Homo sapiens: one gene and its partners. The protein of the gene in region 1 purifies or fractionates together with the protein of each later gene. This does not show direct contact. Each region holds a gene or a part of one and is shown in the gene's direction. Other genes may lie near its edges. The genes, in order: SLC27A1, ATP2B1, TFRC, SAAL1, DYM, PPP6R3 and ERAP1.

The links.
Region 2: the proteins of SLC27A1 (region 1) and ATP2B1 purify together in Homo sapiens (affinity purification with mass spectrometry; one large-scale study listed by BioGRID and IntAct). This does not show direct contact.
Region 3: the proteins of SLC27A1 (region 1) and TFRC purify together in Homo sapiens (affinity purification with mass spectrometry; one large-scale study listed by BioGRID and IntAct). This does not show direct contact.
Region 4: the proteins of SLC27A1 (region 1) and SAAL1 purify together in Homo sapiens (co-immunoprecipitation; 2 studies listed by BioGRID and IntAct, with this or other methods). This does not show direct contact.
Region 5: the proteins of SLC27A1 (region 1) and DYM purify together in Homo sapiens (affinity purification with mass spectrometry; one large-scale study listed by BioGRID and IntAct). This does not show direct contact.
Region 6: the proteins of SLC27A1 (region 1) and PPP6R3 purify together in Homo sapiens (affinity purification with mass spectrometry; one large-scale study listed by BioGRID and IntAct). This does not show direct contact.
Region 7: the proteins of SLC27A1 (region 1) and ERAP1 purify together in Homo sapiens (affinity purification with mass spectrometry; one large-scale study listed by BioGRID and IntAct). This does not show direct contact.

Annotation. Positions count from the first base shown.
Region 1 is NC_000019.10:17,498,024-17,501,523, forward strand, and holds part of SLC27A1 (long-chain fatty acid transport protein 1), read left to right. Parts: intron 1-2,254; coding exon 2,255-2,381; intron 2,382-2,471; coding exon 2,472-2,609; intron 2,610-2,688; coding exon 2,689-2,853; intron 2,854-3,249; coding exon 3,250-3,396; intron 3,397-3,500. UniProt on the Homo sapiens protein: Mediates the import of long-chain fatty acids (LCFA) into the cell by facilitating their transport at the plasma membrane.
Region 2 is NC_000012.12:89,702,339-89,705,838, reverse strand, and holds part of ATP2B1 (plasma membrane calcium-transporting ATPase 1), read left to right. Parts: intron 1-3,500. UniProt on the Homo sapiens protein: Catalyzes the hydrolysis of ATP coupled with the transport of calcium from the cytoplasm to the extracellular space thereby maintaining intracellular calcium homeostasis.
Region 3 is NC_000003.12:196,061,591-196,065,090, reverse strand, and holds part of TFRC (transferrin receptor protein 1), read left to right. Parts: intron 1-662; coding exon 663-782; intron 783-2,151; coding exon 2,152-2,237; intron 2,238-2,445; coding exon 2,446-2,509; intron 2,510-3,500. UniProt on the Homo sapiens protein: Cellular uptake of iron occurs via receptor-mediated endocytosis of ligand-occupied transferrin receptor into specialized endosomes. Endosomal acidification leads to iron release.
Region 4 is NC_000011.10:18,092,583-18,096,082, reverse strand, and holds part of SAAL1 (protein SAAL1), read left to right. Parts: intron 1-3,500. UniProt on the Homo sapiens protein: Plays a role in promoting the proliferation of synovial fibroblasts in response to pro-inflammatory stimuli.
Region 5 is NC_000018.10:49,331,646-49,335,145, reverse strand, and holds part of DYM (dymeclin), read left to right. Parts: intron 1-1,292; coding exon 1,293-1,418; intron 1,419-3,139; coding exon 3,140-3,282; intron 3,283-3,500. UniProt on the Homo sapiens protein: Necessary for correct organization of Golgi apparatus. Involved in bone development.
Region 6 is NC_000011.10:68,463,752-68,467,251, forward strand, and holds part of PPP6R3 (serine/threonine-protein phosphatase 6 regulatory subunit 3), read left to right. Parts: intron 1-3,500.
Region 7 is NC_000005.10:96,783,946-96,787,445, reverse strand, and holds part of ERAP1 (endoplasmic reticulum aminopeptidase 1 isoform b precursor), read left to right. Parts: intron 1-339; exon of another isoform or gene 340-896; coding exon 897-976; exon of another isoform or gene 977-1,474; coding exon 1,475-1,658; exon of another isoform or gene 1,659-2,061; intron 2,062-2,377; exon of another isoform or gene 2,378-3,365; coding exon 3,366-3,500. UniProt on the Homo sapiens protein: Aminopeptidase that plays a central role in peptide trimming, a step required for the generation of most HLA class I-binding peptides.

The DNA of each region.
Region 1 (3,500 bases):
TTCCCAAGCCCCTCCCATCCAAGGCCAAGAACAGACCGTAATAATGATCATAAAGCAAATGTCGGCTGGGCACAGTGGCTCACACCTGTAATCCTAACACTTTGGGAGGCTGAGGCAGGAGGATCACTTGAGCCCAGGAGTTTGAGACCAGCATAGCCAATGTAGTGAGACCCCCTTTTCTACAGAAAATAAAAAATTAGCCAGGCATGGTGGCAGGTGCCTGTAGTCAATGCTACTAAGGAGGCTGAGGCGGGAGGATCACGTGAGCTCACGAGATCGAGGCTGCAGTGAGCTATGATTACACCACTGGACTCCAGCCTGGGCAACAGAGTGAGACTCTGTGTCTCTAAAAAGGAAAAAAAAAAACAGCAAGTGCCATGGGGGCTGGGTCCTTAATGCCAAGAACAATGCTCCTTCCTCAGTGTGCTTGGTGTTGGATGGCCAGCCCCCAGGGCACTTTTGCTCACTGTAGCTCAGATTCTTGCATAGGAAACACACCAGGCCAGGCACGGTGGCTCACGCCTGTAGGGTCCAGCCCCACAGGGTCGGTGGGTTTTTCTCCCTGTGTGCGGAGACGAGAGATTGTAGAAATAAAGACACAAGACAAAGAGATGAAAGAAAAGACAGCTGGGCCCGGGGGACCACTACCACCAAGAGGCGGAGACCGGTAGAGGCCCCGAATGTCTGGCTGCACTGTTATTTACTGGATACAAAGCAAAAGGGGCAGGGTAAAGAGTGTGAGTCATCTCCAATGATAGGTAAGGTCACGTGGGTCATGCGTCCACTGGACAGGGGGCCCTTCCCTGCCTGGCAGCCGAGGCAGAGGCAGAGAGAGGGAGAGAGAGAGAAAGACAGCTTATGCCATTATTTCTGCATATCAGAGACTTTTAGTACTTTCACTAATTTTGCTACTGTTATCTAGAAGGCAGAGCCAGGTGTACAGGATGGAACATGAAGGCGGACTAGGAGCATGACCACTGAAGCACAGCATCACAGGGAGACGGTTAGGCCTCCGGATAACTGTGGGCAAGCCTGACTGATGTCAGGCCCTCCACAAGAGGTGGAGGAGTAGAGTCTTCTCTAAACTCCCCGGGGGAAAGGGAGACTCCCTTTCCCGGTCCACTAAGTAGCAGGTGTTTTTCCTTGACACTAAGGCTACCGCTAGACTAGACTTCCCAGACGCTGGCGTCACCGCTAGACCAAGGAACCCTCTGGTGGCCCTGTCCGGGCATAACAGAAGGCTCGCACTCTTGTCTTCTGGTCACTACTCACTGTGTCCCCTCAGCTCCTATCTCTCTATGGCCCGGTTTTTTCTAGGTTATGATTACAGAGCGAGGATTATTATAATACTGGAATAAAGAGTAATTGCTACAAACTGATGACTAATGATATTCATATATAATCATGTCTATGATCTAGATCTAGTATAACTCTTGTTGTTTTATATATTTTATTATACTGGAATGGCTCGTGCCCTCGGTCTCTTGCCTCGGCACCTGGGTAGCTTGCCACCCACACACGCCTGTAATCCCAGCACTTTGGGAGGCTGAGGTGGGTGGATCACTTGAGGTCACGAGTTCGAGACCAGTCTGGCCAACATGGCAAAACCCCATCTCTACTAAAAATACAAAAAAAAAAAAAATTGTTTGGGCTCAGTGGCATGCGCCTGTAATCCCAGACTCAGGAGGCTGAGGCATAAGAACCACTTGAACGTGGGAGGCAGAGGTTACAGTGAGCGAAGATTGCGCCACTGCATTCCAGCCTAGGCGACAGAGTAAGACTCTATAAAAAAAGGAAGGAAGGAAGGAAGGGAGGAACGGAGGAAGGGGGAAAAGCAGAAAGAAACACACCAGACAGGGTGTAGTGGCTCAAACATGTTGGAGAAGCATTTCTGTTCATAGAACCATGCCAAGCAGGGCGGCGGGCAGCAGGTGAAGCTCTGCAGTGTCTGACGTAGCTGTAGTGTCCACACAGAGGCATCTACTTCCTGCCAGCATGGAGGGTTTTGTGGATCAGGAAGTGGGTGCCAGCCAGAGGTCTTCTCTTGACTGAATGCAGGCTGGGAAGGTGGGAGGAGGGGCCCTGAGTTGGAGGCGACGCTTACTACCCTGCTTTTGCAGATCAGCCAAGGTCACAGAGCTTAGAATGACACTGGAGGTGCTAGGTCCAAGCCCCAGGGCAAGGCAGGCAAAGTGTTACTGAGAAGGACCCCGCATATCCCCGGCTCCTTCCAACTCAGTTCACCCCATTCCAGGTCGGCTCCTGTGGTTTCAACAGCCGCATCCTGCCCCACGTGTACCCCATCCGGCTGGTGAAGGTCAATGAGGACACAATGGAGCTGCTGCGGGATGCCCAGGGCCTCTGCATCCCCTGCCAGGCCGGTGAGCAGGGCCCCCGCATGGTCCCCACCCGGAGCAGGGGTCCCCACGCCCTGCCTGCCTAGCGCAGCCTGAACATGGCCTTCTCCCTAGGGGAGCCTGGCCTCCTTGTGGGTCAGATCAACCAACAGGACCCGCTGCGCCGCTTCGATGGCTATGTCAGCGAGAGCGCCACCAGCAAGAAGATCGCCCACAGCGTCTTCAGCAAGGGCGACAGCGCCTACCTCTCAGGTGCGCAGCCTGCTAGGCCCCGGTGACTGGCTGTGCGGATGGGGATCCTCCACCCATCTGCCCCTCTCCCCTCTGCCAGGTGACGTGCTAGTGATGGATGAGCTGGGCTACATGTACTTCCGGGACCGTAGCGGGGACACCTTCCGCTGGCGAGGGGAGAACGTCTCCACCACCGAGGTGGAGGGCGTGCTGAGCCGCCTGCTGGGCCAGACAGACGTGGCCGTCTATGGGGTGGCTGTTCCAGGCAAGCTGGGGTTGCAGGGGGTGGTCCTGAGGCATGGTCCTGAGGGAGCTCAGCCAAAAGGGGCTTAGAAGTACACATGCCTTTGGGCAGTGCACAACCTGGACAACTGCTCATGGCAGCCCAGGAGGAAGCACTGGATCTGGAGCCAGTTCACCTGGGTGATGTTGAGCCTCAGTTTTGTCATCCAGAAAATGGGATCATGAAAGCCCACCTGTCTTAGGGCTTCAATGAGCCAAGCAGGAGCTCCACAAAATGTGTGGCTGCTTCCATAAATGTCATCCCAGGTTGGGAGAGACTGGAGATTACAGACCAGGGGCTACTGCTTGACAGTGTATCTGGTCCTGCTGGTGGGGAGGATGAGAGGCGGGGTGTCCTCAGCTGAGCCTCTGCCTCCAGGAGTGGAGGGTAAGGCAGGGATGGCGGCCGTCGCAGACCCCCACAGCCTGCTGGACCCCAACGCGATATACCAGGAGCTGCAGAAGGTGCTGGCACCCTATGCCCGGCCCATCTTCCTGCGCCTCCTGCCCCAGGTGGACACCACAGGTGCGAGTCTCCCCCACTCCAATCTCTCTCTTCATCCATCAGTGTGTCTGTTGATTCATGTCTTGGTCCATTTTGTGTTGCTCTAAAAGAATACCTGGCCGGGG
Region 2 (3,500 bases), on another chromosome or scaffold:
GATAAGTCTTTATTAAACTAAAATTAGCCAAAAACTCTGAGATGAAAGGTGTTTTATCCCCTTACTGCTATGTGTTCTCTGTCGAACTATGGAATATGGCCCCGGGATAAAGGACATTATTTGAGCTATTAGATTGTTGCATGTAGAGTAATTATATGTTGTTATATATACTTTCATAGATTCCTTGATTTCAGAGTAAGATTTACTAATTTCCTTTGACTGACAGACATGTTAACTTCATTTCAGATGCAACAGTCTCTTACCATGGGAAATGAGTTTTAAAAGGAACGGCCACTTATAACTATTGGTCTTCTGTAATATTGAACAAAATAATATTTGGTTTTTTTCCCTTACATTTTACACATGAATACAGTAAAATTGATGTTTTCACTTTTTTATTCTGGAATTTTGTAATGGATGAGCAAAAAACAATAAAAGGACTGAGGATCAGAAAGCAGAAACAAACATTTAGGTTTTTGCATCTCGGGCAAGAGTATTGACCAGATGGAAGGGAATAATTATTTTCTAGTAGCTGTCATGATATGTAATAAAGGTACTAATAGTAGCTTATTTGGGACTAGGTGGAATCTGAGGTGACATTGCCAGGAAAATAACATACAATGGTTATGGGAATAATTTTCATAAAGATAAATAACTTTAAAAAATTCACTTTTTAGCTTTTAGAAATGTTATCTATACATACCACATATATTGTTGTCTTGTTAAAATTTTTTATTATAGAAATTATCAAACATAGGAAAGTAGAGAGAATGATATACTTACTGGCCAGTTTTGACAATTACCAACTCTCGTGGTCCATCACATTTCATTTATATCTTAACACAAGAAATGGTTCTGTTATAAATGGGGACATAGGACAGGTAATCGAATCGAATTTTTGTATTTGTATTTTTCAGAATACGGTATACTCAATAGTGTCCAATATCTAATTAAATCTGAATGGTCAGTTTTTATGTTCTTCGTTGATTCTTTAGTGGCATATACATTTTAATTTTTCTGGTGGTAGTTTGTGTATTTTACAGCAGGTGCCCAAAGATAGTGTCTCTCAAATTTTGCTGTCTTCAGAAATCACAGGTATTATTATTAACTACTTTACAGTTTTCAGAATGTATTTACATATGACCTCATTTGATTCTCACAATAATCCTGTGTGGTGAGTAAGGCAGACAATTGTACTTTTTTTTGTTTTTTGTTTTTTGTTTTTTTTCTGGTAGGCAAAGTGATTTGTCTAGGCCCTAAGGTCATATAGCTAGCAGCTTTTTTAGCCCAAACTGGACTTTAGGTGGCTTCTAGATTTTGCTCATTGCTCTTCTCATTATACACGTTTATGTAAGTTTATGAAAGTTATGTATGGAAAATCAGTTTTGATCAGAGTAAATTTAATAGAGAAATATGAATGGGTTTGTTTGGGTTGAGCTTTATAAATTTAATCATTACTTATATTTGGTGTAATACAAACAGTTTGTGTTTTGATTTACTTAACAGCTGAGTGAATGTGAACGTATCTGAAATACTATATTTTTAATATTGTGGATTTTTTTAAGTTAGGAATTTTGATTTCAAAGAACTGTTGGCCTAGGGGTGTCTTAAATCTTGAATAAAAATAAAATGTGCTGTACTAAAAGTTTCTTCTTTAAATTTCTGCTGTAACTTTTTATGCACTTGTTTTTATACTATAACATGTTTATTACCTAAATCTCTTTGAAATATTCATTTGTTCTGTAATGAAATTTAGTTTAAAAGGTTCCAAATGAGGAGGTTTTAGTTCCTGAAATCCAAAACCTGGTTATAAATCTCACAAGAAAGGTGTGGTTCTCCAGCATTAATGTGCATGAAGAATCACCTGGGGGAGTTACTGAAAGTGCAGATTCCTTGGCATTGCCCCTGGAATTTTGATTCAGCAGATTTGAGGTGGGGCCAAATGCTACAGTAGTCTGCATTTTGAGAAACATTGACATTGCATTTATAACTAAGTTAAAGTTACATGGTAGAGATACCTAAATCAGTAGCAAAGTTTGATTTGTTGATGTCGATGGTTTTTGTGACAATCCTAGAACTGATAAATTGAAAATATTTCTGTTATCTATGTATGCCCAGTCTTTCAGAAGATCCATCTGTGGTTACTTAAGTTACTTATTAAGCACTGTAAACTATTAGAGAATGTTCTTTTATTTTCATGTCTTAATGTCTGCCATTTTCAAATGACTTAGACACCAGAGTTTATATTCATAAAAATAATGCATGCTGTATCCTTACAGTAGTGTGTGTTTATCCTTTAGTCTAGCTCTTTGTTAGAAGAAAAGATCGGATATTCCTTCAGACTAAAAGGACATAAGTTAGTGGATAGATAGCTCTCTTTAATTTTAGTTAACAAGCAGTTGCTCTTTCAAAAACAGCAAGTAGATCTTCCAAGAATATTAGTGATAGCATACTAATTGATAATTTACTATTTTATGCATTAAAACAGAAGTTACTGCTGTCTCACTTAAATGTTAAATAACCGTTTGTGTAGTTCACCAATCTACTCTGACTTTTGGAACTATTTTATCTAATACCATATCCACGTGAATTACCTGCCTTTAATAATTTTCCTCTTTAAGACCAGTTTTGAAATGCAGTTGTTTTTTGCTTCATTTATAACAGTATAGCAAATAGCCTGTATCTGCATTTAAAATATATTTTATAATAAAATTAATTTCAAAGCAGGTTCATCTCAAGACTGTTGGGAACCTGTTTTTGTTTGTTCCAAAACTTAGTCTTGTTGGCTACACCTTAAGGTTTATTTAGGAATCATAGCTTGTAATTTACTAAAGCTTATGGTAATCTAAATTAATAAATATTTTTGGCAGAGAGGTCCAAATAAACTGTGGGCACATTTTTTTTTGCCATATTTTTAAAAGCTATTTTCTATTAAATTTTTCCTAGGACAGTGTCAGCTATTCCAAATCGTATGTGGTGTTTTTAGTTATAAGAATATTTGGTATTTCTAAGTACAGTGACTTCCAACAATATGGTTTCTTAAAATATGGGATACCTGCTTTTGTAGTAATACTACTGTCACCTGGGCCTCTGAGGGAACAAATAAAGGTAGTGTTGAATGGACCAATGCTTGCTTACACTGTGAAATCTGAGATTACACTGCCTAACTGTAAACTGGCATGACTACTGTACAGACCTGATAAATTTAGGAGTCAAATTTATGTTTTCTGAAAAAAATAGGTCTTAAAGAAGATTTGACTGTTTAACTTGAAAGATGCTTTTTAAATACTTTTTTATTAACAATGTGGATCTATTATTCATTGTATTAACCCTGTGAGTGAGTTCTCTCTCAGGAGGATTTTAAATAATAATCTTGTACTCTCAAAACTCTCAGATCTGCTGCTTTAATCTACCTTTCATATTTGTGCCAGAATTTTCTTTTGTTTTTCAATAACCTATTTTAAACCACAGTTTCTTCACTAAAACTTTCATCTTTTTTT
Region 3 (3,500 bases), on another chromosome or scaffold:
GGGTTTCTCCATGTTGGTCAGGCTCCATGAGGTCAGAGCTCCTGACCTCAGGTGATCTGCCTCCCTCAGCCTCCCAAAGTGCTGGGATTACAGGCATGAGCCACCGCGCCCAGCCTATGTGTCAGTTTTATTGGGAGGTAATAAGGCCCTAGGAAATTCTTGTTAAAAATTGACCATTATGACTAGAAAATCTATTCTAAGTTATTGACTAGACCAGTGATAAGCAAATTTCTTAAGGGGGCAGATAATAAACCTTTTGCCAGGCTATACAGTCTCTCTTTTAGCTGTTCAACTCTGTGGGAGCAAGAAAACAGGCACAGACTGTGCGTAGTGAATGGGCATGCGGGCTGTAGTTTGCCAGTCCCTGGAGTTAACTTTAAATGCAATCAAACAGCCAACACTTACTAAGAAATAAGTCCTTGGACTTAAGTAGTCAGTAAATTTAATTAGTAGTGTAGGAAAAAAGTAGCTCTACTAGTAAGGTAAAATTAATATTCTCATGTGAATTTTTAATTCCCAGAGTTTTTAGTCAGATTTGAAGTAAGGCTCTTTTATCCTTAATACATATACTGTGCTTTTACCTTTCTACTGATGTGCTAATTCTAGAAAAGTTTAGAAGCTGATTATATAAGTTCTTTCTTCCTCTTTTTTCTTTTTTAAAGATCACTATGTTGTAGTTGGGGCCCAGAGAGATGCATGGGGCCCTGGAGCTGCAAAATCCGGTGTAGGCACAGCTCTCCTATTGAAACTTGCCCAGATGTTCTCAGATATGGTCTTAAAAGGTAGAGTACAAATTTTGATTCTTTTGAATATTGGTGCACTGCATACAGTTCTAGATGTTATACTGTGCTTTGCTCACTTTGCCTGCATTCCTGTGGTTCTCATGCTAGACTCTAGTTCTTAAATACAAGGCAGATTGTCTTTTGTTGTAGCTGCCTTTTCCTTTGAAACAGCTTTCCATAAAGTGTCTTAACTGTGCTAGAAATCACCAGTTTCTTTGAGACAGTGGAGTTACTGAGCCCTAGTGCTTAGTGTGGTGGATCCAGAGTGATAAGGTGGATCATAGTCCCTAAGCAATCTATTTGAAAGCAGTAGCATACCTCTCTACTCATGTACTGAGGCCTAACAGCTATTGAAATTTTGTTCTGTTTATTCATTTATTCATTTTTTGAGACAGAGTTTCACTCTGTTGCCCAGGCTGGAGTGCAGTGGTGTGATCTCACTTAGCTCACTGCAACCTCTGCCTCCCGACTTCAAGCAATTCTCCTGCCTCAGCCTCCTGAGTAGCTGGGATTACAGGCACCCACAACCACACCCGGCCAATTTTTGTATTTTTACTAGAGACAGGGTTTCGCCATGTTGGCCAGGCTAGTCTCCTGACCTCAAGTGATTCACCCGCCTCAGCCTCCCAAAATGCTGCTAGTGAGCCACCGTGCCCTGCCTCTTTTGTTTATTTTTGAGCCTTTCTGTCCTACTTTCCACTCTTTCACACTCCTACCCACCCACACATTCAAAATCACGTCACATTCTTGAATCTTTGGGTCTTAGGGCAAACTGCAATGCTTAACTTTAATACAGAGTACATTAATGGAGAAAAAGATACAGTGAGGGAAGTGGGAGGGATGGAGGGCAGTGTGATACATGTAACCTCAAAAGGTGCTGTCACAAATATAGTTTCTCTGCAAACTCTTCTTGTAACTTAAATTTGTGAATTTTTATTTTATTTTAGAATTATTTTTTTAAAAATCCAATGTTTGGATTTACCTCTGAAGATTTTTCTCAAGATGTGCATCATCATGCTTACACTGTTTTCAATGATCTCTGGGTCCAGAAGTTAAGGAACTCCAAGAATGAAATTGTGAAAGGGTGACTACTGGCCCCTGCTATGTACTCAAAATCTTATTTGCAGATCTCCTATCTTGCTCTTTGTAGGTTACTTTAAAAAAAATTATTCCTATTCTTTTATTCTTTTACCTGGGGTCTCAAAAAAAGATTTTGTTAGTTTTTTTTTTCTTTTTTGGCTCAGAAAAAAAAGATTTTGGAATCTGCTATCTTGGAATTAGACCTTCTGATTCATCTTAAGTGGGATACCTTCCATCCTTGTCTGTGTATAACCTTTCCTCAGGTAAAGCTAACTTTTTTCTCTTTCAGATGGGTTTCAGCCCAGCAGAAGCATTATCTTTGCCAGTTGGAGTGCTGGAGACTTTGGATCGGTTGGTGCCACTGAATGGCTAGAGGTATTCTTTATCATCCCTTCCCATATTGGACACGAGCTTGTGGGCTTAGGCTGTTGTCCAGAAGTGATGTTTTTATAGGTTTGATTTTACCACTTTTGCCTTTGCGTTTAGTCTCAGTAGAGTCCAGAATTGAAAATGAATCCCTAATGCTACTGTATGTGATAAATAAACAGATTTATACTTATTAGTGTTTTCCCTTCTCTTCTAGGGATACCTTTCGTCCCTGCATTTAAAGGCTTTCACTTATATTAATCTGGATAAAGCGGTTCTTGGTAAGTATCCCTTTCATTAGCTGTGTATGAATTCAGGTAAACTTTTTTGAGATGGAGTTTTGCTCTTGTCGCCCAGGCTGGAGTGCAATGGCACGATCTCGGCTCACTGCAACCTCTGTCTCCCAGATTCAAGCGATTCTCCTGCCTTAGCCTCCTGAGTAGCTGGGATTACAGGTGCTCACTACCACACCCAGCTAATTTTTTGTATTTTTAGTAGAGACAGGGCTTCACTATGTTGGCCAGGATGGTCTCGAACTCCTGACCTCAGGCGATCTGCCTGCCTCGGCCTGGGATTACAGATGTGGGCCACTGTGCCTGGCCAGATAAACTACTTTGAAGTGGAAGAAAGCTTTTTTTTTTTTTTGAGACAGGGTCTCACTGTATTGCCCAGGCTAGAGTGCAGTGGCACAATCTTGGCTCACTGCAGCCTTGACCTCCTGGGCTCAGGTGATCCTCCCACTTCAGCCACCTGGCTAATTTTTTTTGTAGAGATGGGGTTTTGCCATGTTGCCCAGGCTGGTGTCAAACTCCTGAGTTCAAGCATTCTATGTCAGCTGCCCAAAATGCTGCGGTTACAGGCATGAGCCATTGCCCTCAGCCTGTATCTTAACCTTCCTTTAAATAGTCTGTCAAGTTACACAGTGAGCACAATTGCTTGTCTAGAACAGTGGGTAGTTCTCAGTGTGGCCCCCAGATGAGTAGCATTAGGAACTGTTACGAATGCAAACTGTCATGTCTACCCCAGACCTTTGAGTCAGAAATGGGAGTGTTGGTCTAAAAACTGGGCTTTTTGGGCTGGGCGCAGTGGTGCACGCCTGTAATCCCAGCACTTGGGAGGCCAAGGCAGGCGGATCACCTGAGGTCAGGAGTTCGAGACCAGCCTGGCCAACATGGTGAAACCCCGTCTCTACTAAAAATACCAAAATTAGCCGGGTGTGGTGGCGAGTACCTGTAATCCCAGCTACTCAGGAGGCTGAGGTAGGAGAATCAC
Region 4 (3,500 bases), on another chromosome or scaffold:
AATCCACCATTGCTTGAAAACCATTCTAAACTCAGCCTGCTGCTTAAGACCTCTACTCTCTGAACCTAACTCATCTTTCCAGCATAAAATCTGGATAGCCAGGTAACCCTTCTGATTTAGCCAGACCTTTCTACTCCCTGTCTCATGCTGTCTCCGTGCCTCCCTTTGTGTGCCTTCTGTCCCCTCTCAGTATTTGCATCTGTTAATTCACAGTGGTACTTTTCCTTCCACACCTTCCCAAGTAAGTAAGTAAGCTTTCAGTAGTCATTGCTGTTAGTAAACTGCCAAGAACAATAGATAAAGACTAAAGGAGAGGCCTTTATATACTGTGCAGTGTACTGTGCTTTATTGCCAATTAAATTGCCATGTGCTATGCATATCATGGATTAGTAAATATCTGTTCAATAATTATAATTATGAAAAACTGCTGTTTACTGAATACCTGGTCTTACTACTATGAGGTATACTTTCAAAGAACTAAATCTTGGGTGAAGATATGTGTTCAGGGTCACACAGCTAGGAAAGAATGGAGCTGAGATTTCAGCCTAGGCCTGACTTCAGTATAACCACTGTACTGTATTTCCTCTCTTTCAGATTATAAAATGGAGAATTCCATAGTGTATTTTTACAAATTGAATGTTGAATTAGAATTCTTATTTAAGTAGAATGTTCTCTCTGAATTAGGGCCTGATTAACCGTTTTTTCCTTGATTCCTTATATTAATATAAGATTTGATGATTATGCTATTTTTATACTGAGTTTTTCTGTCTTAAATATATTTACTCACTACTAGTATATAAAGAAATAAGCTTATGTCAGGAATGGCACCTTTTAGGAATTAGTCATATTGTTGTATTATATCCGCTGGCCACCGTCTGCTGCCACAGTGATTCTCAGCCTTGGCTGCATGTTAGAATCACCTGGGACAGGGACTCTCAAACTTAAGCATGTCCCCGCATCACTAATTGCCGAGCCTCCCTCCAGAGTTTCTAGTCCAGTAGGTCCAGGATTCCTAATATGTTCCCAGGTGATGCTGGTGCTCTGGTGCATTGCCACACTCTGAGAAGCTTTACCCTAGGGAACTTTTGAAAATCTTGGTCAGGCCATACCCTAGATGAGTTAAAGCAGAATCTCCAAGTGTGAGACTCTGGGCAGCTTTTAAAGTTCCCCAGGTGATTCCAGTGAACAGCCAAGAAAAACTTGATCTTTGATTGGAAGTTCAGTTATTCCCTCTTTAGTTTATAAGGGAAATGTATGTGGTTTTTTTCTGCCCCTACTCACTCTTAATCTTTTCCCAACATTTGACCACCCACTTTTTATTGAAATTCCATTTCTATAGCTCCTGTGTCACCTCACTGTCGTCTCTGACCTCTTCAGTCACTCGTCTCTCACCTTTCATTGGCTTTTTTCTTTCTTCCTTTTTTATACTGTCCCGAATATGGACTTTTTCTAAGGTGTAGGCCCTGATCCTTTGTTCTCATTATATTCATTTTCCTAGTGAACTTATGTGTTCTTTACACCTTTAAGTTGCAACTCTGCCTGTAGGAGCAAAGCCTCGACTTCCCTTCTGATAACTGATGTCACATCTCCAACTTTGTTCAGGCATTCTCTGCTTGCACGCTCTACAGTTGTCCCTTGGTATACATGGGGGATGGTTGCAAGACATTCCCCCATACTGAAATCCACACATACTCAATTTAGCAGTCAGCTCTGTGGAACCTGTGTGTATGAAAAGTCAGCTCTGCATATTGTGCAGGTTTTGCATCTTGAGGACACTGTATTTTCAGTCCAAGTTTGGTTAGAAAAAATCCACCTATGAGTGGACCCACACATTCAAACCTGTGTTCAAGGGTCAGCTGTACTCTCTAACCCTGAATTCTGTATGTCCTCAGTGATTTATGGTCACACTTATCTAATCATAAAAGTCACCTGGTATATGCTGGGTAAACAATAGCTTTCCAGGCTCTACCCTGGAAATTATGATTCAGTAGATCTGAGATGAGATTTGGAAATCTGTATTTTTAACAAGCTCCCTGAGTGATTCTTATGTTCCAGCAAGGTTGGAAACACTGTACCATCTGAACTCATTGTAGCCTTTTATGCACTTTCTTTTTTAGTTTTCCTGTCAACGGGACCAATATCACTGATGGGGAAATGAGGCAACTTGAAAGCTAGGAGTCAAGTTCAACTGCTTTCTCCTTTATCCTCACACTGGATTATTTTGCTTTCACCTTGAGAGTCTTCCTCAGCTTCATCCTTTTCCATGCCTGAGGGCCCTCCTCCTCTTGCATCTTGATAACTGAGGTGCAGTTTGGAATAGTGGTTAAATGCTCAAGCTCTGGAGCTCTGCCGTGTTCTAGTTGGAGATCTTAAGATCTTAGGCAAGTAGCTTAACTTCTCTGTGCCTTAGTTTCCTCATCTGAAAAAATGGGGATACTATTAGTACCTATCACCTAAGTTATTATATGAAATTATACACAGAAAATGCTTAGAGTAATGCCTGGCCACCGTGAGTGGTAATAAACTGTTATTACATATTAATTAACTATTACTGAGATAGATTCTTAAGTTCTTTTCAACTTCTTTTCCCTATACACTAGTCTCCCCTTATCCTTGGGGGTTGCATTCCAAGGCCCCCAATGCCTAAAACCGAGGATAGTACTGAACCCTATTTATAATATGCACAAATTTCCTTTTCCTTCTTCACAGTTTCATGGATAGATTTGTTCTTAGAGATCCTAAGCAACCTCAGCATACATTTTTGTTTGTTTTTCTTATGAAGTCAAGAACTTTTACCTTTTCATGTAAAGAAAGCACTTAATGGCGGCTCCTTGGCATATCCAAATTGCCAGCATCACTACTCTTGTGCTTTGGGGTCATTATTAAGTAAAATAAGGGTGACATGAACACAAGCCCTGTGAGATATCCCGATGGTCGATCTGATAGCCAAGATGGCTACTAAGTAACTAATGGGCAGGCAGCACATACAGTGTGGATATGTTGAACAAAAGAATGATTCACATCCTGGGTGAGACGGTGCAAGATTTCATCGTGCTGCTCAGAAAGGCATGCAATTTAAAACATGAATTGTTTATTTCTAGAATTTTCTATTTAGTACTTTTATACCAAGGTTGACCATGGGTAACTGAAACCATGGATAAAGAGGGACTACACTAATACATTATGCATTTCGCCACCAGAGTAATCTTCCTAAGATACTGTTTCAGTATGTTGTCTCCCCTCCTTGAGCATCTTCATGATTCCAAATAACTTCCCAGATTAAGTCTAATTCTTCAGCACGGCATTCAGAGCCCTTAATCTCAGTCCTTTATACCTGCAGTATTTACCTCATGCTGTTCACCCACTTTGTGCCACAACCAGAGTACTTTATTGTCTACAGTATTCGCCATGTACATGATTCCCTTCCTGCCTTTGCTGATACTTTCCCCTTATTTGAATGTCTGTCTTTTTGTTTGCATATCTCATTCCTATCAATCATT
Region 5 (3,500 bases), on another chromosome or scaffold:
TAAATATATTTCTTTTTCTTTCTTTATTTTTTGTTTTTGAGATGGAGTTTCGCTCTTATCGCCAAGGCTGGAGTGCAATGGCACGATCTTGGCTCACTGCAACTTCCGCCTCCCAGGTTCAAGCCATTCTCCTGCCTCAGCCTCCCTAGTAGCTGGCATTACAGGTGCCCGCCACCATGCCCAGCTAATTTTTTGTATTTTTAGCAGAGATGGGGTTTTACCATGTTGGCCAGGCTGGTCTCAAACTCCTGACCTCAGGTGATCCACCCGCTTTGGCCTCCCAAAGTGCTGGGATTACAGGCGTGAGCCACTGAGCCTGGCCTTTTAAACATATTTCTATCAGTAATAACTCCTTAAGATATCTGGTAGAATTTAAATTTTTCTAGTTCTAGAATCAAGTCATCATTAATTTGTTTAATGAGCTTTCATTTAAGTAGGTGTTAAGTATTTTTCTTTGTTTTTCATAATTATTTCATTTTTATAAAAATATTTTAGTATTCTTTTGGTGCTATTGCTCTTTTTACTGCGTTGTTGAGGTTTCTACTTCCTTGGTCTTAACATGTTCCCCATTATAATCCTGTTTAAACTTTTGCAGTAACTGGAAATTTCTGGATGCCTTTATTCCTCTGTGTGCTTTCTGTTCAGCTGAATCTTTTTCTTTTTATTTGATCTAAGACTTGTTTCCCAAAGGGGTTTATGATCTTGAGAGGACAGAGTAACCCTTCATAATCAAAATATGCTTAATAAAACAGGAATAACTTGTTTACTGTTAATATTTTGCTGAACATGCAAAGTTGACCTTGAGAAAGGTAGGCACTAGAGACACAAGATCTAGGGTGTATTATTGTTCTGATTGTAAAGTGATCATCAACATGAAAAGGCATTGTTTTCTTCCCTACACTGTACCTTCTCTTCAGCTTTACAATCTGAGTATTTGTCTCTGTATTATCACTAAACAGAAATGAACATAGATGTCTAGAGTGAATCTTCAAAACAGAACACTGCTAGTAACTATTTCCATTATACATAAATAGACTTGTCATTTAATAGGAGATGGAAACTGGAAAATAGGGAAATAAAGGGATAACTAACCCAAATACACCAGCTAATGACAGGGAAGGAGTTTAATATTTTTGCTTGACTTAATTTTTGTATTAAACGTATTAACATTTTTCAGTAACCTGAAAATACTGAATATTTAGATTTGAGTTTTTAAATGTATAGTTCATTTAGAAAAGAATAGTGTCTTAATCTTCCAAAGTGACTGTTACTCTGTTTTTCTTCCATTTTAGAGATATTACATATGAAATATCAGTAGAAGCTATATCAACAATGGTTGTTTTCCTTTCCTGCCAACTCTTCCACAAAGAAGTTTTGCGACAGAGCATCAGCCACAAGTATTTGATGCGAGGTCCATGGTATGTTTCTACTTTAAGTATGTCTAGTTTTTTCATTGTATAAATCTATATTTCTAGTCTTGTCCTTTTACCTGAGTATCGTCCCATATCTCCAACCAGGTATTTCCTCTAGTTGTTCTATTGTCTCTTTAAACCCAGTGCATAGGGAACCGCATTCTACTTTCCTGTGCCATCTACCCATCCTCCCTGTTCTTCCTGTCCCGTAGCTTCATTACCTTCTCCAGTGGTTGCTTCGTAGAATTGAAACTTTGAAATCATCTTTTTCTTCCATCTCCTTCATTCTGTCTATGTTTAAGCAGTCAAGTCATATTTGTTATTCAGATTATTTTTGTATCTTCCTCTTCTCAGCAGTCCCTTTGAAACACCTGTGATCTATGCCCCCTTACTCTCTTTGGACTTCTCCAGCAGCCTCTTCGCTGACTATTCCTACTTCTTTGAGCCTGCAAATATTTGCTGTGTGCTATCCATGTGCCAGGCATGTTAGACTGTGGGGCTATGCTCTTGAGCAGAAGCTTACGATCTCCTAGAGGGTGTGGATGCAAATGACCAACACATATGCACATACCTGACCTTTTATTAACATAATCTTCACAAAACTTTAAAAATGTAAAACAAATCCAAATAAAGTACCTTTGAGGAAAGTTCTCAGATAGTGGGGAGCTTTGTCTTCTTCATATTCTTTTTGCTACCCTGATTATTCCTGTGGCATGTATGTTCTTTGAACATATTTGAAAATCACTGAGGGAAAGGATCTGGGCTTTGGAGTCAGAGGTTTGCATTGGAACCCTCTCTGACAGAGACACTCAGAATGACACTCAGAATGACCGTGGTTTGAAGTAGTGCTGGCATCGTGGGACTGTGTGCATCTTTGCTGAAACAAGATTGTGAACTTCATCCCTTATAGTGCCAGAGTATTCAAGTTGCTTTTTAAAAATAGACATAGAGGGTGTTAGTGTTCTTATTTTCTAAGTAAGGTTTTTATAGTATCATTATGGTGCCACATATTTAAACCGTAATATGTTCTTTACTTATTTTTGGGGTTCATCTTGGAAACCATATTTAAAAAGCTCAATAGTACATTAAAGAATCTGTTAAAAAGTTTACTCTATATTGCAGGAATTAGTTTAATACCAATTGAATAATTGAATAATTTCATACTTAAAAAGTGTAGTCCTATTGTTATTTTTAAATTCTTGCTTTTTTCTACTGATTCTTTATTACTACTTCCCTTCAATTGCCAGATAATGTGTTATGCACTAAATTTATAATAGCTCACAGTGTTATACCGAATGTAGATAAAGTAACTGGAGTTCAAGAGTTCAAGTGGGCTGGGCACGGTGGCTCACGCCTGTAATCTCAGCACTTTGGGAGGCTGAAGCGGGAGGATCGCTTGAGTTTAGGAGTTTGAGACCAGCCTGGGCAACATAGTGAGACCTTGTCTCTACCAGACCTTGTTTCTCCCCACTGCAGAAAAAAAGTATTTAAGTAATTTGATCAATATCTTATGATGTGATAAGAGGAAAAGCAAGGATTAAGCCTCAAAATTGCTCTCAAAGCCCATGGTCTTCACTGTTGTGTGCAGTGCTCAATTTCTGTGAGTTGTGCCAATAGCCCTTTTGTATTAACAGATAGTGTTAATGGCAGAATTATTTCTGTATTGTTATTCAGAATTAGATGACTCCCATAAATATGAGTTTGATTTTTTTTTCCTTTTTGTATAGTCTTCCATACACCAGCAAACTTGTGAAGACCTTATTATATAACTTTATCAGACAAGAAAAGCCACCTCCTCCAGGGGCCCATGTTTTCCCTCAGCAGTCGGATGGGGGAGGACTGCTTTATGGACTTGCATCAGGAGTAGCAAGTAAGTTTTATCAGATTTTTTCAATTCTTTGGTGCACATAAATTTTATCTATTTAGGCATAAGAAATTCTGTTTGCTTGGCTGCCACCATTAATAGTTACATTGAATTTGTGCAGCTGGTTCAATGTGAAAACAAAGTAATTAAAATATTAATCTTTCTGTTTTGTGCGGTGATTTATGTAAAATGTATGCAAATAATGAATGGATTACCTACAAAAC
Region 6 (3,500 bases), on another chromosome or scaffold:
TCTTAACTTCAAATGATTGTCTTTTGATTTACTCTAGTTCAAGAGTTCTCAGTTGGGGGTGGTTCCCCCCTCACCCCCCAGGAAACATTTGGCAGTGTCTGGACATATTTTTGCTTGTTACACCTCTGGGAGTGGGCAGTGTGCTTCTGGAGGGTAGAGGCCAAGGATACTGCTAAACATCCTACAGTGTCCAGCATAGCCTCCTCCCTGCCCGCCAGCAAAAGTATCCAGTCCCAAATAGCAACACTGCTGAGGTTGAGAAATCCTGCACTTAGATAGATGTGAGACTGGCCTACATTAGAATAAGCCTGCATTAGAATAATTAGAAATTTTTTAAGACCATGGATGTTGGACTCCACCTCTGGAAATGGTGGGATTGAGAATCTTATTAATTTTTTTTGAGATGAGTCTAGCTCTGTCGCCCAGGCTGGAGTGTGGTGGTGCCATCTCGGCTCACTGCAACCTCTGCCTCCTGGGTTCAAGCAGTTCTCTGCCTCAGCCTCCCTAGTGGCGGGGATTACAGGCACCCGCCACCATGCCCGGCTGTTTTTTGTATTTTTAGTAGAGATGGAGTTTCACATCTTGGCCAGGGTGGTCTTGAACTCCTGACCTCGTGATCTACCCGCCTCGGCCTCCCAAAGTGCTGGGATTACAGGTGTGAGCTACCATGCCCGGCCACGAGAATCTATTTTTTAGAAGCTTCTCAGACAATACTGAAATGCAGCTGAATTTTGGAACCACTGTTTTACACCACAGGTTTAGGGACTGTTTGTGAGTTAAGGGTTCCTTTCGGTGATCTGTGAACTTGGTCTTTGCAGTACCTAGATCCTGCCTTGGAGATTATTTAGTAGTGGGGATTATTTAGATGGTATACTTAACCATTTTTCAGATGCCTGAAGACTGAACTTTAGAAGCATTTGTTAATTGATTTTATAAAATATCTTAGGACTTTTTTTTCTTAACCTCATGAAAATACATTACCATACTGTGCTGAAACTAAGCAAAATTCTTAGATATTTAGAGTTTGCTTCTGTGCTGAATAATCTTACACTACTGTAATTTTTGAGTTAGTATCTTTTGCCCTCCTTTTGTCAGTCAGTGGTCAGGTCTGGTTTTAGATGCCAGCTTCAACTTTTTTTTTTTTTTTTCGGAGACAGTCTCACTATGTCACCCAGGCTGGAGTGCAGTGGCATGATCTTGGCTCACTGCAACCTCCGCCTCCTGGGTTCAAGTGATTCTCCTGCCTTAGCCTCCTGAGTAGCTAGGATTACAGGTGCGTGCCACCACACCTGGCTCATTTTTGTATTTTTAGTAGAGATGGGGTTTCACCATGTGGGCCAGGCTGGTCCCGATCTCCTGACCTCAAGTGATCCGCCCGCCTCGGCCTCCCAAAGTGCTGGGATTACAGGCGTGAGCCACCATGCCTGTTTTTTGTTTTTGTTTTTGTTTTAATAAAGACCTATTCCCAGAGAATTAGCCCTGGATCAGTTTACCAGTTCTGCCCATTGAGGGCACAGATAGGCATACAGTATGCTCAGCCTTTAACACAGTGATCCTGCCCACTGGTAAGTTGGACTCTTCTGTGCCCTAGACTCTGATCCCAGCAGAGAAGTGTTCTTTTCTCCTGGGGAGATGAGATGCAGTGGTAGAGAGAAGGGTAGATCTTTTTTGCTCATATTAAAATTTAGATTATCTAGTTTATGGAATGGAAGAATATTAGGAAAACTATAAATTTTTAGCAGCTAAATGTTAATATCTGAAGTTACAAAAGGTCATGGAGGCATTTTCTTATTCTTCATCCTGAAATTCGGCCTGTGCCTATGTTGAGAACTACCAGTGACCACCATCTACTTCTAATATCCATTTATTTCATCAGCAAATACATTAATTGAGTCCTTACTCTGCTAGGAACTGTATTAGGGATTCACTGATGAACAGGCCCTTAAGGACCTGCAGTCTAGAGGAAGAGGCAAACAAGAGACGACAAAGCTGTTAAGAATTGTACATGGTGTCAATGGGGCCTGGGAGGAAAGAGCTTCTGTTTGCTGGTCAGTTGGTTGATTTGTTTAAACTTTGGGTGGTTGAGATTGCCAGAAGTTTTGCAAAAGAATAAGATAGTTACACTTTGTTACTCATTTATAAGAAATGATTACTTCGACTTGCCTCCTTAGTTTGAGGAGTCTTAAAAAGCAGTGCCATTCTTCCCATACTGAAGCCGTTTTGTAATGACAGATAGCTGTTTATAGCTCCCTACACAACAGTTATCCTTTGACCAAACCTCAGACACTGACTCTCTGGTTCCAGACCCGTCCGAAGCTTGCTGTAGGTTTTTGCAAAATGTTTCCGGCATTCTTGAAATAGATGCTACTTCAAGTGGGAGGGGGTGTTTCTCCTGCTGCATTATGGATCTAGGTTGACTGGAGATTTTGTTTTGGCCTTTTGACTTTGGCTTAGATTTATTTGTCATGGAAGCCCCCTTTCCTACTTCTCACCCCCTTTAGTTTTATGAGGAGGGAGATAGTTGCTAGTTAGATCAATACTCAGTTTATTTCAGGTATTGAAAGATTACAGACTGACATTTGGATACCAGGTAGGTTGGCTACGTGGTAAAGAAGCAAGTAAAAGGGCATTTGACAGTATGTGGAAAGGTATCTTATCTCTATGCCTAGCTAGGACATTTTCTTTTTTTTTTTTTTTTTTTTGTTGAGACGGAGTCTCGCTCTGTCACCCAGGCTGGAGTGCAGTGGCGTGGTCTCGGCTCACTGCCAGCTCTGCCTCCCGGGTTCACGCCATTCTCCTGCCTCAGCCTCCCCAGTAGCTGGGACTACAGGGGCCGGCCACCATGCCCGGCTAATTTTTTGTATTTATTTATTTATTTTGAGACGGAGTCTCACACTGTCGCCCGGGCTGGAGTGCAGTGGCGCTATCTCGGCTCACTGCAAGCTCCGCCTCCCAGGTTCACACCATTCTCCTGCCTCAGCCTCCCGAGTAGCTGGGACTACAGGTGCCTGCCACCACGCCCGGCTAATTTTTTTTGTATTTTTATAGAGATGGGGTTTCTCCGTGTTAGCCAGGATGGTCTCCATCTCCTGACCTTGTGATCCGCCCGCCTTGGCCTCCCAAAGTGCTGGGATTACAGGCGTGAGCCACCGCGCCTGGCCATTTTTTGTATTTTTAGTAGAGACGGGGTTTCACCGTGTTAGCCAGGATGGTCTCGATCTCTTAGTGAGCCGCCCGCCTTGGCCTCCCAAAGTGCTGGGATTACAGGCGTGAGCCGCTGCACCCGGCCCTAGCTAGGACATTGTCATGTCACAGACTGGGCAAAGAGCTGGCTTTACCCTGAGTAGAGGCTATTTACTAATTGTCACTTACGGCTGGCTAGAGTTGACCTGTTTTAGATGCATTAGTGAAGACTATACAGTTGACTGAACTTATGCAATTAAAGTTCGATAGGTTCTGAACATCTTTTTACAGATATAAGGAGGCTCTGATTTTGTACT
Region 7 (3,500 bases), on another chromosome or scaffold:
AAAAATACAAAAATTAGCCGGGCATGGTGGCGGGCGCCTGTAGTCCCAGCTACTCAGGAGGGTGAGGCAGGAGAATCGCTTGTACCCAGGAGGTGGAGGTTGCAGTGAGCCGAGATCGCACCACTGCACTCCAGCCTGGACAACAAGAGCGAAACTCCATCTCAAAACAAACAAACAAAAAACAAGAACATTCAGTTATATAACCATAGCCACAGTACAATTATCAAAATTGGGAAATAAACTTTATATAATACTATTATCTATAAATCCCATTCAACTTTTTCCAATTGTCCTAAAAATATCCTTATAGCAAAATAGAAAATAAATTCTGACTTAGGATTTAATACAGGATCACTTATTTTATTTAGTTGTTGCATCATTTTGGTCTCCATTTTTTTCTGAAACAACTCTTCAGTCTTTTTTGGGCTTCTCGATATTGACATTTTTTGAAGAGTACTGGCCAGTTATTTTATAGAATGCCTTTCAGTTTGGATTTTCTGCTGTTTCTCCATGATCAGGTTCAGCTTACATATCATTGACAGGAATCCCAAGGAGGTGATATTGTGTCCTTCCTAATATACTATTCAGGAGGCACATGAGTCCTGAAGTTAGGCCTCTGAGATGCAATCAGCCAATCACTGTAAAAAGGCTTTCAGGGTTCACGTGAGTCCAAATTCTTAGCTCTACTCAAGGAGTCCAAGAAAAGGAAATAGTGCCCGAGCTGACACTCCCTACAAAGCTGGAAAACAGACTGGGGATGTTTTGAGAGCTTGGCTGTAGCAGTTTTGGTACTATCTTGTTCTAAACTAACCAGTGCCTGGCACATGATAGGTGATTTAATAACTGCTTGTTGAATTGAATCAACAAATGAACAATCCACCTCTCCTTTATTTTAGGTACCTGTGGCATGTTCCATTGACATTCATCACCAGCAAATCCGACATGGTCCATCGATTTTTGCTAAAAACAAAAACAGGTAATTTATTTTGGAAACTACTAGTTAATTCAAGGAGGAATGTGAAAATGTGTAGGATTAAAGTGCTGTTTCTTTTGCTATTTATCTTGGTTAAAGCAAAAGGGATCAGATTGAAAATGCTTTCTGGTTTCAAAGAAGAATGGCCAATATCTTGCCAGATAGAGATTATAGCTGAATTATATAATGCTAAAAAGGAGGGATTACCAGTGAACATTCACTATTACTTTGTTAACATTACTGGGTTATATCATATGTATGGCCAGAGATGTAGTTGCCATTCTTTTCATAGATCTGTAAATCTCACAAAATTGATGTCTAAAGCTAGTGTTAGCTTTTGTCTATTGAGTTGCTGTTTTCTGGTTTCTGAGAGAAATAAGTGATGTTTTCAAATTTTTCAGTATTAAACTCTTCTCTAATTTCCTTGCCCAATCTTGGATGAGAAAAGCTTTCTTCAGGCAGGGGAGCAAATGGAACTTTGATTTATTTTATTTACTCTAGATGTGCTCATCCTCCCAGAAGAGGTGGAATGGATCAAATTTAATGTGGGCATGAATGGCTATTACATTGTGCATTACGAGGATGATGGATGGGACTCTTTGACTGGCCTTTTAAAAGGAACACACACAGCAGTCAGCAGTAATGATCGGGCGAGTCTCATTAACAATGCATTTCAGCTCGTCAGGTAATACACGCTGCACAAAGTCGCGGTTTATTTCTGAAAGCAGCTGTTATTGTTCAAATTCTTGATTTCTAAAGACAAAAATGATTGATTGATAACAAGAAGTTGAAAGGTGTTTTCCTTTAAGTTCTTCTAACAACCCAAGATTGCTTTTAGTCTTATAATTAACCTCCTGTCTGTGACTACTAAGGCACTTGAAGGAAGGAATCTGTATCTTAATCTTTCTCATTAATAATTCAGATCATACTGAGGCGGAAGTGTAGATAACCAGGAGATCAACATCCTGGCGAAACTCCTTGCCTTGTCCCCGCGGCATGGTCCCGCAGCTTCTTCTGGCCCCGCTATACCGGATCAGGTTTCTCCCACCACTGGGTCTTTATAACAGCCTTGAAGTCTTCTTAGAAGACTAAGTGACACAGGCCCAAGTTGTTTGCATTACATTTCTTGGGTTAAAGAAGGGATTTTTTTTTCTTTCCTAAACCAGATACCTGAACTTTGCAGCATCTTTATGGAATATAGCTCATAAAATGTAGCCCAACCAAATGATCTCTGAGTGTGTGAAGACAGAATTAACACTACCCTTTTTTTTTCCTCCCCCATGACAATGGTTTTTAAGGAAATGCTCCCAAAGCCTAAAACTCAAACTTCTTCAACATGTAGGCAGACCTAAAGTCCTAAGAGGAAGCATGCAGGTGGGAAGGATTATCTCTTTCTCCTCATACCCGTATCCTTCTGGCCTAAATTTTGAGTGCCTTCTGGTTCTTCTCACCACCATACTGGGCCTCCTGAAGTGAGAAAAAGCAATGGGGGAGAAAGTTATGGGTTGCTTACCTAGCTGTTTCTTTCTGCCTAAAAAATTCCCCTCTGTAGAATATTTCTGCTTGAGCCTTAGAGGGCTTCTTCTTTTTTATTTTTTAACTTATATAATATATACCCTACCACTGAGGTTTTTAACACTAACCCTCTGTAATGAAGGGTTTCTAAGGATATGCAGTGTCTTTGAAATGGAGAAGAAAATGTGTTTCCTCCAGGAACTCATGGTTTTGACCAGATGATAGTCTGTTTGACCAGGCTTCCTAAAGGGTCTTTGATGGAAATCCCTTGCTTACTCTAGAAGTTCACCACTCAATCCAGTGTTTCACAGGGATAGATGCTGATGTGCTTCCTTTCCGGCTTATCCACGTTAGCCCTAGACGTTACTGTTTGAGAAACTTCCTCCCTAGTGTAAACATGCCGGATGTTGTGTTATATGTGATAGAAAAGAGACTTATATAGTAGTTATCTATCTGTTTGTTTATTTATTTTTTGGAGATGGAGTCTCACTCTGTCGCCCAGGCTGGAGTGCAGTGGTGCCATCTCAGCTCACCGCCTCTGCCTCCCGGGTTCAAGTGATTCTCCGGCCTCAGCCTCCCACATACCAAGTACCTGCCACCATGCCTGCCTATTTTATGTATTTTTAGTAGAGACGGGGTTTCACCATGTTGGCCAGGCTGGTCTTGAACTCCCGACCTCAGGTGATCCACCTGCCTTGGCCTCCTAAAGTGCTGGGATTACAGGCATGAGCCACCGCGCCCGGCCGTAGTTATCTATTTATAAGGGACATTTATATCTGATTGCTTGTTTTGCTAGAAGATTAAAATATATTTTGAAGCAAAAAGTTGACTTCCCGGATTTACTTTTAAACCACTAACCACAGTGTCTCTTGGTCAGCATTGGGAAGCTGTCCATTGAAAAGGCCTTGGATTTATCCCTGTACTTGAAACATGAAACTGAAATTATGCCCGTGTTTCAAGGTTTGAATGAGCTGATTCCTATGTATAAGTTAATGGAGAAAAGAGATATGAA